3 linked regions of the Homo sapiens genome follow. The protein of the gene in region 3 purifies or fractionates together with the protein of the main gene of each other region. This does not show direct contact. Each region holds a gene or a part of one and is shown on either strand. Other genes may lie near its edges. The genes, in order: PPP4R2, LGALS9 and LMCD1.

Evidence for each region.
Region 1: the proteins of LMCD1 (region 3) and PPP4R2 purify together in Homo sapiens (co-immunoprecipitation; one large-scale study listed by IntAct). This does not show direct contact.
Region 2: the proteins of LMCD1 (region 3) and LGALS9 purify together in Homo sapiens (co-immunoprecipitation; one large-scale study listed by IntAct). This does not show direct contact.

Annotation. Positions count from the first base shown.
Region 1 is NC_000003.12:73,003,225-73,006,874, forward strand, and holds part of PPP4R2 (serine/threonine-protein phosphatase 4 regulatory subunit 2), read left to right. Parts: intron 1-3,650. UniProt on the Homo sapiens protein: Regulatory subunit of serine/threonine-protein phosphatase 4 (PP4). May regulate the activity of PPP4C at centrosomal microtubule organizing centers.
Region 2 is NC_000017.11:27,644,571-27,648,220, forward strand, and holds part of LGALS9 (galectin-9), read left to right. Parts: intron 1-743; coding exon 744-779; intron 780-1,290; coding exon 1,291-1,341; intron 1,342-1,976; coding exon 1,977-2,018; intron 2,019-2,459; coding exon 2,460-2,548; intron 2,549-2,699; coding exon 2,700-2,862; intron 2,863-3,650. UniProt on the Homo sapiens protein: Binds galactosides. Has high affinity for the Forssman pentasaccharide. Ligand for HAVCR2/TIM3. Binding to HAVCR2 induces T-helper type 1 lymphocyte (Th1) death.
Region 3 is NC_000003.12:8,564,193-8,567,842, forward strand, and holds part of LMCD1 (LIM and cysteine-rich domains protein 1), read left to right. Parts: intron 1-1,239; coding exon 1,240-1,455; intron 1,456-3,247; coding exon 3,248-3,406; 3' UTR 3,407-3,650. UniProt on the Homo sapiens protein: Transcriptional cofactor that restricts GATA6 function by inhibiting DNA-binding, resulting in repression of GATA6 transcriptional activation of downstream target genes. Represses GATA6-mediated trans activation of lung- and cardiac tissue-specific promoters.

The sequences.
Region 1 (3,650 bases), about 64 Mb from region 3:
TTTTTGAGACAGAGTCTCACTCTGTTGCCCAGGCTGGAGTGCAGTGGTGCGATCACAGCTCACCGCAACCTCTGCCTCTTGGGTTCAAGTGATTCTTGTGCCTCAGCCTCCTGAGTAGCTGGGGTTACTGGCACGTGCCACCATTGCCTGGCTAATTTTTGTGTTTTTAGTAGAGACGGGGTTTCGCTGTGTTGAACAGGCTGTTCTCGAACTCCTGGCCTCAAGTGATCCTCCCCCTGCCTTTGCCTCCAAAGGTGCTGGGATTACGGGCATAGTCACTGCCCCGGCTGACTTTCCCTTTTAACTGTCAATCTTAGTTTTACAGTAGGTATATATCTCATGCCTACAACCAGTCCTTATGTCATTGTCATTGTATTCTCTCTGTCTCTCGTCAGTTTGGTTGTCTGAATGAAGCTTATTCTTTAATAGATTATTGAAAAGCGGCTAATTGAAACAATATTTCTGGAGTTTTTTTTTGTTTTGTTTTTTTTTGAGACAGAGTCTTGCTCTGTTGCCCAGGCTGGAGTGCAGTGGTGCGATCTTGACTCACTACAACCTCCACCTCCTGGGTTCAAGCGATTTTTCTGCCACAGCCTCCTGAGTATCTGGGATTACAGGTGCATGCCACCACGCCCGGCTACTTTTTTGTATTTTCAGTTGAGACGGGGTTTCTCTGTGATGGCTGGGCTGGTCTCGAACTCCTGACCTCAGGTGATCTGCCTGTCTTGGCCTCCCAAAGTGCTGGGATTACAGGCGTGAGCCACTGTGCCTGGCCTAACTTTTGTATTTTTAGTAGAGATGGGGTTTCATCGTGTTGGCCAGGTTGGTCTCAATTTCCTGACTTCAAGTGATCTGCCTGTCTCGGCCTCCCAAAGTGTTGGGATTACAGGCATGAGCCACTGCGCCTGGCCTGGAGTTCTTATGTGTATGTCTTGTATGTTGTCTGTGCCTTTTATTCTTTTTTTTTTTTTGCCCCCCTTTTTATTTCCCCTTTTTGTTGAGCATGGGGTCTCGCTATATTGCCCAGGCAGGTCTCAAACTCCTGGGCTCAGGCTATCCTCCCGCCTGTGCCTCCCTAAGAGCTGGAATTATAGGCATGAGCCACCGTGCCTGGCATGTGCCCTTTAATCTTGAAGGTCACTTTGGCTGGAAGTAAAATCTTTGGTTCACATTTTCTATCCTTGAGTGTCTTAAGTTTGTTAATTCTATTGTTTCCCCCCAGTAAAACTGTTAAAATCTATTTATTTTTGAGACAGAGTCTTGCTCTTTTGCCCCGGTTGGAGTGCAGTGATGCAATCTTGGTTCACTGTAAACTCTGTCTTCCCACCTCATCCTTCCCGGTAGCTGGGACTACAGGTATATGCCACCACACCTGGCTAATTTTTGTGTTTTCTGTAGAGATGGGGTTTCACCATGTTTTTAGGCTGGTCTCCTGAGCTTGAACTCCCGAGCTTAAGTGATCTGCCCACTTTGTTGGCCTCTTAAAGTGCAGGGATTACAGAGGTGTCACCATGCCTGGCCAGCTGTTAACATCTGATGATAATTTTTTTTACCTTATAAACTGCCCAATCTTTTTGCCTACCTTCCTAAAAGATTTTTTTCTTTAAAATACAGTGTGGGGTGTGTGTGTGTGTGTGTGTGTGTGTTTGTTTGTTTGTTTGTGTGTGTGTGTTTTGAGTCGGAGTCATGTGTGTGTGTTTGTGTGTTTTGAGTCGGAGTCGTGTGTGTGTGTGTGTGTGTGTGTGTGTGTGTGTGTGTGTGTGTGTTTTGAGTCGGAGTCTTGCTCTGTTGCCCAAGCTGGAGTGCAGTGGCGCCATCTCCGCTAACCGCAATCTCCGCCTCCCAGTAGCTGGCATTACAGGTGCCCACCACTATGCCTGGCTAATTTTTGTATGTTTAGTAGAGACGGGGTTTCACCATATTGGCCAGGCTGGTCTCAAACTCTTGACCTCGTGATCTCCCCGCCTTCGCCTCCCAAAGTGTCAGGATTACAGGTGTGAGCCACTGCGCCCGGCCAAAATACAGTGGTTTTTATAGACTAGATCTTTAAAAGCATTTTGAAAATCAATGTTGGATATTTTGGAGTCATTGTACTCAGGTATATGGTGTGGTCTTTTTTTTTTTTTTTATCCACTTATCTACACACTGGTGGTGTAGTCTTTCAATATGAATTTTTAAATTTTTAAAAAATATTAAATATTTCAAGAAAGTGAATTGTTGTCTTTGGTTTTTTTGTTGGGGAGGGGAGGGAGACTATATTGCTGCATCTTTGCATATCTTCAGTACTTATCATTTTGTCTTGAATTCTTCTTTTGAGTCCTTTTTTAAAAAGCAGTGTTACGGGCCGGGTGCGGTGGCTCACGCCTGTAATCCCAGCAGTTTGGGAGGCTGAGGCCGGCGGATCACCTGAGGTCGGGAGTTCAAGACCAGCCTGACCAACATGGAGAAACCCCATCTCTACTAAAAATACAAAATTTGCTGGGTGCGGTGCATGCTTGTAATCCCAGCTACTCGGGAGAATCACCTGATCCCGGGAGGCAGAGGTTACAGTGAGCCGAGCTCACGTCGTTGCACTCCAGTCTGGGCAACAAGAGTGAAACTCTGTCTGCAAAAAAAAAAAAATCAGTGTTATTGAGGTATAATTGACATACAATACACTGTATTTATTCGAAATGTACAGGTTGCTAAGTTTTCATATCTACACTCAGGAAACCATCACAACAATCAAGATTGTGAACATGTTCATTCATTACTCCCAGAAGTTTGCTCATGCCCCATTGTAATCTTCCCTCCCTGTGTGTGCTGCCTTCCCTCCAAGCAACTTTTTGTCAATGTAGATTAGTTTGTGAGTTCTAGAATTTTATGTAAATGGAACCATACAGTATGTATTCTTTGGCTTCTTCTATTCAACATAGTTTGTATTTCTTTTTATTTCTGAGTAGATGCATCGTATGAATATGCCACAATTTTTTTTTTTTTTTTTTTTTTTTTTTGAGATGGAGTGTCGCCCTGTTGCCCAGGCTGGAATACAGTGGTATGATCTCGGCTCACTGCAACCTCTGCCTCCAGGTTCAAGCTATTCTTCCGTCTCAGCCTCCCTGGTAGCTGGGGCCACAGGCGCGCGCCACCATGCCTGGCTAGTTTTTGTATTTTTAGTAGAGACGGGGTTTTACCACATGGGCCAGGCTGACTCCTGACCTCGTAATCCACCTGCCTCGGCCTCCCAAAGTGCTGGGATTACAGGCGTGAGCCACCACACTTGGCCCAGAGTAGCTTTTCTAACTACATGGAGCACTCTCGTTGGTTTTGTGAAGTGTTTTAAGAACACGGCAGTTTGCATTCTGAAATTCCAGGCTGTGTTCTCCACTTCTGCTTTTTTTTGAACCTTGTCTTCATTTCTCTTGACTCTTTCTCCTCATTGTGGGGCTTACCTCTAGATTGGAGCACTGTTGGGTCACTTTCAAGAGCTCAAGTGAGCAAGACCTGCTTCGTCTTTTCGAACTCAGAGCAGTCTATTCACTCATTGCTAGAGTTGGCAAAATCCATCTCAGTTTCAGCTGCTGTTCTCAAATTGGTCTGCAGTGATTTCCAATGAGTACCTGTTGGCTATTTTATGATTCTCCTGTTCCTAGGCCTTTGAAATACACCTT
Region 2 (3,650 bases), on a different chromosome or scaffold from region 3:
GTGAGCAGCCCTTCCTCCGGCCACTCAAGTAGTGGGGACTGGGAGGAGGGGCGCTTTGTCTACGCAGTCTTCTTATGGCTCATCACCGTACAGACAGGGCACCTGCCTCCTGCCACGCTGACTTCAGGACTGGTCGAGCCCCAGGGAACATTTGCAGGGCAGCCCAACTTTGGCCCTGGCCCTGGCGCTGGCCCTGGCTCTGGGGAGGATAGAAAGTGTGCTGGATACAGTCAGACAGAACTGGCTGCCACTTTGGATTTGATCCCTTCCACCTTGGCAAGCTTGGGCAAGTTGCTTAATCTTTCTGAGCCTCGTTGCCTCACTAGGGACACAGGAGCTGAGGCTGCTTCCCTTGTTGGAAAGCACTGAAGCCCAGGAATCGACCCACAATAGGCCTTCAACAAATACCACTTCTCACCTTATGGGTGAAATATGGCACTGGAAGTAATGCTCTTCGCTGTGGGAGCTACAGAAAGCAATGAGGTCTCTATCAAACCCAGTCTCCTCTCTCTCGAGAGGAACCAGTGGGGATACCCTACCCCCCAACCCCAAAGCCCTGTACACCTGGGGGTAAAAATCTGGGTGCCACGGGCTCAGGAAGGCTTGCTTGGGAGCAAGAGGGAGGTGGGTGTGTCCGGGGAGGCATTTCTGAGCACAAGAGCCTCCCTGGAGTTTTGCCACCATCTCCTCCCATTCTGTGGTGCCCGCGATAACCACCATTCTGACTCTCCTCACCCCTCCAGCCTCCCGGCGTGTGGCCTGCCAACCCGGCTCCCATTGTAAGTCTCTTGCTTTCTTTTTGGATCGTCCTCATTTTGGCTTTTCTGGGCTCATGGAGGAGGCAGGGCCAGGCATTGGGCCTCTCCCATTGGGAGTGGGGAGGGCACAGACCAGACCCTTGACCATCTGCCCGGCCTGGTGAGGTTGGGGGTTGGATGTGGGGGTTGGATGAAACAACCTGAGTTGCCACCCCGTGGGCAGCCACGGAAGACCATGCCCCACATTCACTTCTGTCACCTGCAAAGGGAGGCTAGGCTGAGAGACGTTTCCCCGAGAGGAAAGATGGGCCAGAGCCACCAGCGTCCCCATCTGTCTTCTCCAGGGTTCTAACCTTTGCCCCTCGCTCATCCCCTTGAGAGAAGAGACACCTGGGCCCACCCTCTGTGGGGTCTGTGGGGCCATTGGGCTTGTTACGCCCCCTGGAGGGTGCCTGCCGTGTGGCGCCCTCTGGTGGGAGCTGGTGGTTTTCACACGTGAGAGCCTGGGTGAGACCTGGTTTCTTTCTTCCAGACCCAGACAGTCATCCACACAGTGCAGAGCGCCCCTGGACAGATGTTCTCTGTAAGTCTACAAGTTCTGGTCAGTTCACAGCTGCACAGTGTCCTCCTTCACCAAAAACTAAACTCCCTAGAGCCCTAGAGTCGGGAAGAAAGCGGTTTAGCAAGGAGGATGGGGACACTAGGGGCTGAGTGCTTGGCTCAGGTGACATGTGGCTAAAGCTGTCCTTGGGACAGCAGAGATTCTGGAAGAAGCAGGGTTTATCCAGTGGTGGAAGAGACAAGTCCCCTAGAGACCGGGAGGGAAACTGGTCCATCTGTCACCAAGTGGGGAGTACAGTGGCCCCAGCACCCGGATGTGAGGTTCCTGGCCCTGCATCCTGGGTCCCCAGGATGTCACTATTGATCACAGGCTTAAGCTCTTCTCCTGATGGTGCAAATGAGGCAGGGGGGCTTAGAATTAGTGGGGCTGCCTGCGGAGGGGTTGAGGGGCAGGTGACCGTGGTGTGGTCTGGGAACACGGCAGGAAGTTCCAGGAAGGCTAACATGAAAAGGGAGGTAGACGGGCGAGTCCAAGGGCCAAAGGCTCACGAGGTCAGCCTCACAGTGGAGTCCTCTCTAGAACGCGTGGGTGCGCCTGGGTGAGTGCTCGCGCACCCATGTGCTCTCCCATTGAATTTCCTGGTTTCTTTTCAACAGACTCCCGCCATCCCACCTATGATGTACCCCCACCCCGCCTATGTAAGTGGTTTCTCAGGGAGGGCAGAGGTTCTGTTTGTGGTGGGCAGGCTGGGGGTGAAGGGCCGCTGTGGGGGGATCCACTGGCCTTGAAAAATTAAAAGCAGTCATTTGTTAAGCTGAAGGGCTTCAAAGCATCCCAGCGAATTAGAAGGCTGTGGAGAGGAGCTTTCAACCTTAAAACTGTCGTGTCAATATGAGCACATTGCATGTCCCTCCCTTTTCACCCCACGAAACGAGTCTTTTTGTGTTTGGCCAAAGTTCCTTTCATGACACTAATCTAAGCCCATTAATTTGAGGAGCACTGGAAAGTTTTCCTTTGGCTTTTATGGAACCAAGTAAAGATATCATGGGCTTCTTCTCAGCTGACAGCCCAAATTCATGGGAACTGGTACAATCTTCCCCTTCCGCGTGGTGGCTGACCTGTCCCCCTTCTTCCGACAGCCGATGCCTTTCATCACCACCATTCTGGGAGGGCTGTACCCATCCAAGTCCATCCTCCTGTCAGGCACTGTCCTGCCCAGTGCTCAGAGGTAAGCCAAGGGCTCCAGTGACCTCTGGGAAGAGAGAGCCCTTCAAGGTCAGTCCAGCCATTCCCCTGGCTTCAGGAAGGCTACTGATGATGGGGAGGAAATGGGACTCAGAATTCGGTGGATAAAGGTTCAGGTGGGCTGCCCACCCCAGGTTCCACATCAACCTGTGCTCTGGGAACCACATCGCCTTCCACCTGAACCCCCGTTTTGATGAGAATGCTGTGGTCCGCAACACCCAGATCGACAACTCCTGGGGGTCTGAGGAGCGAAGTCTGCCCCGAAAAATGCCCTTCGTCCGTGGCCAGAGCTTCTCAGTAAGGCACCGCAGTCTGGAGCTTGGAGAGGCTCCCATGGGTGCACAGGGGGAGGGGGTAAAGGAGGTTTGAGGTACCTTGAACAGTATGGGGGCTGATTCCTCTGGGATGAAGGCCCAAAAGAAGAGAAGGTGGCCAACAAATTATTATTATTATTACTGTCCCGCATGAAGGAAGTGCTGGGATCTGCTTTTTCAGATGAGGAAACAAACTCACAAGTGCAGGTTACTTGCTTGTGGTCACACAGTCAGTAAGTGTCAAATCAGACCCAAGAAGGAGGTGTTATTCATTTCTTCATTTACTCAACAACCATTTTCTTGTCGCCTGCTTTGCGCAGGAAGCACCCCACATGCTGGGGGCACAGTCATGAAGCACACAGACAGGGTCCTGCCTCCAGGGAGTTTATAATTTAGGTGGGGAAAGAACAAGGAAAGTAAAGCATGGACAGATTGTCACAGATAACGACAGTGCCACGCACAAAGCAAAACAGAGCGATGAGATAGAGCGAGCCTGGGAGGGGCAGCTAGGGCCAACGTGCAGAGGCACGGGTGTGGCCTGTCCAGGAACAGCAGGCAGGCGTGCTCCACCCTGACTACATATTCAAATCACCCAGAGAGCTTACAAAGGAAATATCAGTGCTGGGACCCCAGCCCAGGCCAATGAGGCAGTCAGCTGGGCATTCGTATTTTAAAAATATGCCTTAAGTGATTATACTCTGCAGTCAGAGTTGAAAATGACTGATGTAGGGCTTTGCAGCCATGGAAAGGAGCTTGGATTTTAACACAGTG
Region 3 (3,650 bases):
TGAGTGTGGAATATATAGAAATTCTCTGTGCTGTTTTTGCAATTTTTCTGTAACTCTAGAACTACTCAAATATTATTATTATTATTATTTGAGACAAGGTCTCACTCTGTCACCTAGGCTGGAATGCAGTGGCACGATCATAGCTCACTGCAGCCTCAAACTCAAACTCCTGGGCTCCAGCAGTCCTCCCACCTCAGTCTTCTGAGTAGCTAGGACTACAGATGAGCACCATCACAACTGGCTAATTTTTCAATTTTTTTGTAGAGATGGGGTCTTGCTATGTTGCCCAGGCTGGTCTCAAACTCCTGGCCTCAAATGATCCTCCTACCTCCAGTTCCCAACGTGCTAGAATTAAAGGCATAAGGCACCACTTCTAGGCAAAAATATTATTTATTAAATATTATTTAAAACTCTTCATGCACGGGTAAAAAGATCCATTCAAAGTGCAAGGTAAACAAACAGGTTTTAATGTAAACAAATATGAAAGGTTCACTGATGTGCTTTCAGATTTCACACTGCAACTAACTTGAGAAAGTATCCTGTGTCAAATTTTACTGTAGTATCAAAGAAGAATATCCACAGTTGCCTGGAAGGTCCTTTAAAATGCATCGTCCTCCTTTTTCCAACTTTATGTCAGTGTGAGTTCAGATTTTCTTCATGTATTTCAACCAAAACAACAGCATGCAAAAGATGGGCTGCAGAAGCAGTTATGGGAATCCAGCAATCTTCTGCAAGTCATTGAAGAGATTTGCAGATATATAAAACAATGTCTTAAAATTTTCTTCTACTTTTTTTGTTTTGAAACATATAGTTATTTTAGTAACAAGATAGGTATGTTAATGTATTACAGGTTTAGTATTGTCATTTTTAAATGAATTAAAAAAATTTAAATTGTTCTCAGTTTTAATTTCTCTTATGGTAAATATCAATAGCTATTACCCACATGAACAAAAACTCTGTAGGGGTCTTGATAATTTTTAAGAGTATAAAGGGTACTGAGACCAAACAATTTGGGAATCACTGTGCTAAATAAATAACTTTATTTAGTCCTCGTGAATAGCCTGTTAGGTAGGCAATATTATTGTGTCGCTTTGCAGATGACAAAACTGAGGCACGAAGAGGTATAGTGACTTGCCCAAGGTCACCCAGGAAGTAGAAAGGCTGGAGCTGGAATTCGAACCCATGTCACTGTGCTCTCCTGACTTCCTTGTCTCCTATGGTCCTTCCCCATCCTTCCAGGTCTGCGAGCTCTGCAAGGGAGCGGCCCCTCCTGACAGCCCCGTGGTCTACTCGGACAGGGCAGGCTACAACAAGCAGTGGCACCCCACCTGCTTTGTGTGTGCCAAGTGCTCCGAGCCGCTGGTGGACCTCATCTACTTCTGGAAGGATGGTGCACCCTGGTGCGGCCGCCATTACTGCGAGAGTCTGCGGCCCCGGTGCTCCGGCTGCGATGAGGTGGGAGATAGCCGCGAGATGGGTTAGGGGGCTTGAGGGACACTGCTGAGGGTAAAAGCCCAGAGGCCAAGAGGAGCATGGCTTTGTGGATGATGTGTTCTACAGATTGGGAAACTGAAGTCAGGCCTCACTGCATGCTCTCAACCTTCATTTTCTCATCTGCAAAATGAGGCAGACAACCATGGGATTGTTGGGAGGGGTCAGACACAGTGCCGGTGAATCTTGTCCTTGGCATAATGCCTAGCACTTAGTAAGTACTCAGAACATAGCAGGATGAACCAGGAGGCATTGCCCACGTTCAAACCTGTATCTGCATCTCTTATTATTATTATCATGTGGTTACCTAACTCCGGAGCCTCAGCTGAGTCTCAGTTTTACTACTTATAAAATAGGGATGAGACCAGCGCCCATCCCATAGAGTGGCTATGAGGATAGATGAGATAATGCATGAAAATGCTTGCCACAGGGCCTGACCTAGGAACTTATAAATGGTAGCTGCTGTTAGTCTTACGATAATATACTATAATATGAGACTTAACATTAATATGACACAATACAATACAATATGATAGAGATGCTATGAAAGAGATTCAAGTCTCTGATACTGGTTTGATGAAAGTAACTCTAAGGTGTATTAATAATGGCAATACTAATTATGATCATAGTATGTACTATTTGCATGCCTTTGGTTGCAGGCAATATACTAACTTCATCTTTGGCATGTATGAAGGTTAGAAATGTCTTCTTTATATTGAACCAACATCTATTTTCTACCACCTTCTACGAATTGGTCACCATATGAAGTTAAGACCCTGTAGTCCTCTTACCTAATAACTCTGTTATTAAGTGATATTAAGAAGGAAAAGGACTGTCACAGGCCTGCCCTGGAGCCTCATTTTTGAAGTGACAACAGTATATGCACAATAACAATTCTCTATCATTTATTAAGGGCTTACGGTGGGTCAGTAATTTGCTACATACTTTACGTACAACATGCTATTTATATCACAACAATCCTTTAGGGAGAGATAAGCATGATTTTTTCTCATTTCACGTTTAAGAAAAGTGCAGCTCTGAAAGGTCAATGCTAATTAGATAGCCCTGACTTTGTGTCAGTCAACATTCTAAGCCTTTCATATGTAGTTGGTCATTTGGCAATCATAGAACCTTGTGGGATGGAAAGTATTTATATCCCCATTTTACAGATGTGGAAGCTGAGGCACAGGGGGATTAAGTAATTTGCCCAAAGTCACAAAGCTGGTAGATGTCTTAAGTGAAAACTCATACCCAGTTCTTGTTTGACTCCAATACTAGAAGGCCCATTAAACATTATGCTCCTCTGCACTTCCTGAGCCTCAGGGGATCCTTACAATATGTCTATTCCAAGTGTCACTTCATTCCAAGCCCAAGTGACCCTCTGTATTCTTGCTCTTGATGATTGGCCATTGGCAGTTTATCTATCCTTAAGCTTTCTTCACCAGGGTGTGTAATCCCACCTTGGAACTAAACTTTAGATTTGACCCAAAGAGTATCACAGATACCTAGATAAGTAAAACCTGCCTGTAGTGGAGGATTTTTTTTATTCCGTCTGAGAAGCTAAGATGCAACCACAACCTTCACCAAATATTATCCTTACTGCCTCAAATTTATGCCAGATTTTTCCACTAAGGCTTTAAAAGGTCAAAACAAGAATAGGATGGGATGAACCACCACCCTATAACTTGTCCTAGATATACCGTCTCTACCTAGGGACAGAAACTGAGTCATGCATTTCTCCTGCTCCCCTCCCCAGATAATATTCGCTGAGGACTACCAGCGTGTGGAAGATCTGGCCTGGCACCGAAAGCACTTTGTCTGTGAGGGTTGTGAGCAGCTGCTGAGCGGCCGGGCGTACATCGTCACCAAGGGTCAGCTTCTGTGCCCAACTTGCAGCAAGTCCAAACGCTCCTGAAGGGCTGCCCACCCACAGCCAGAATCCACAGGATCCCACCGAGAAGGAGAGCCAGGTGTGCCGAGACCATCCTAAGGGTCCGATGTGACAGCAAGCAAGTGAAATAAACAATGATTTGCTTTTCAGTGAGAATATATATATGAGATATATATAGATATATATTCTAGGTTGGGTGGTGGTAGATCCTTGAGGGTCAGTAGTTTCAAAACCAAAAATATTCTAAGAAGTCTTAGGATGGAGTTCC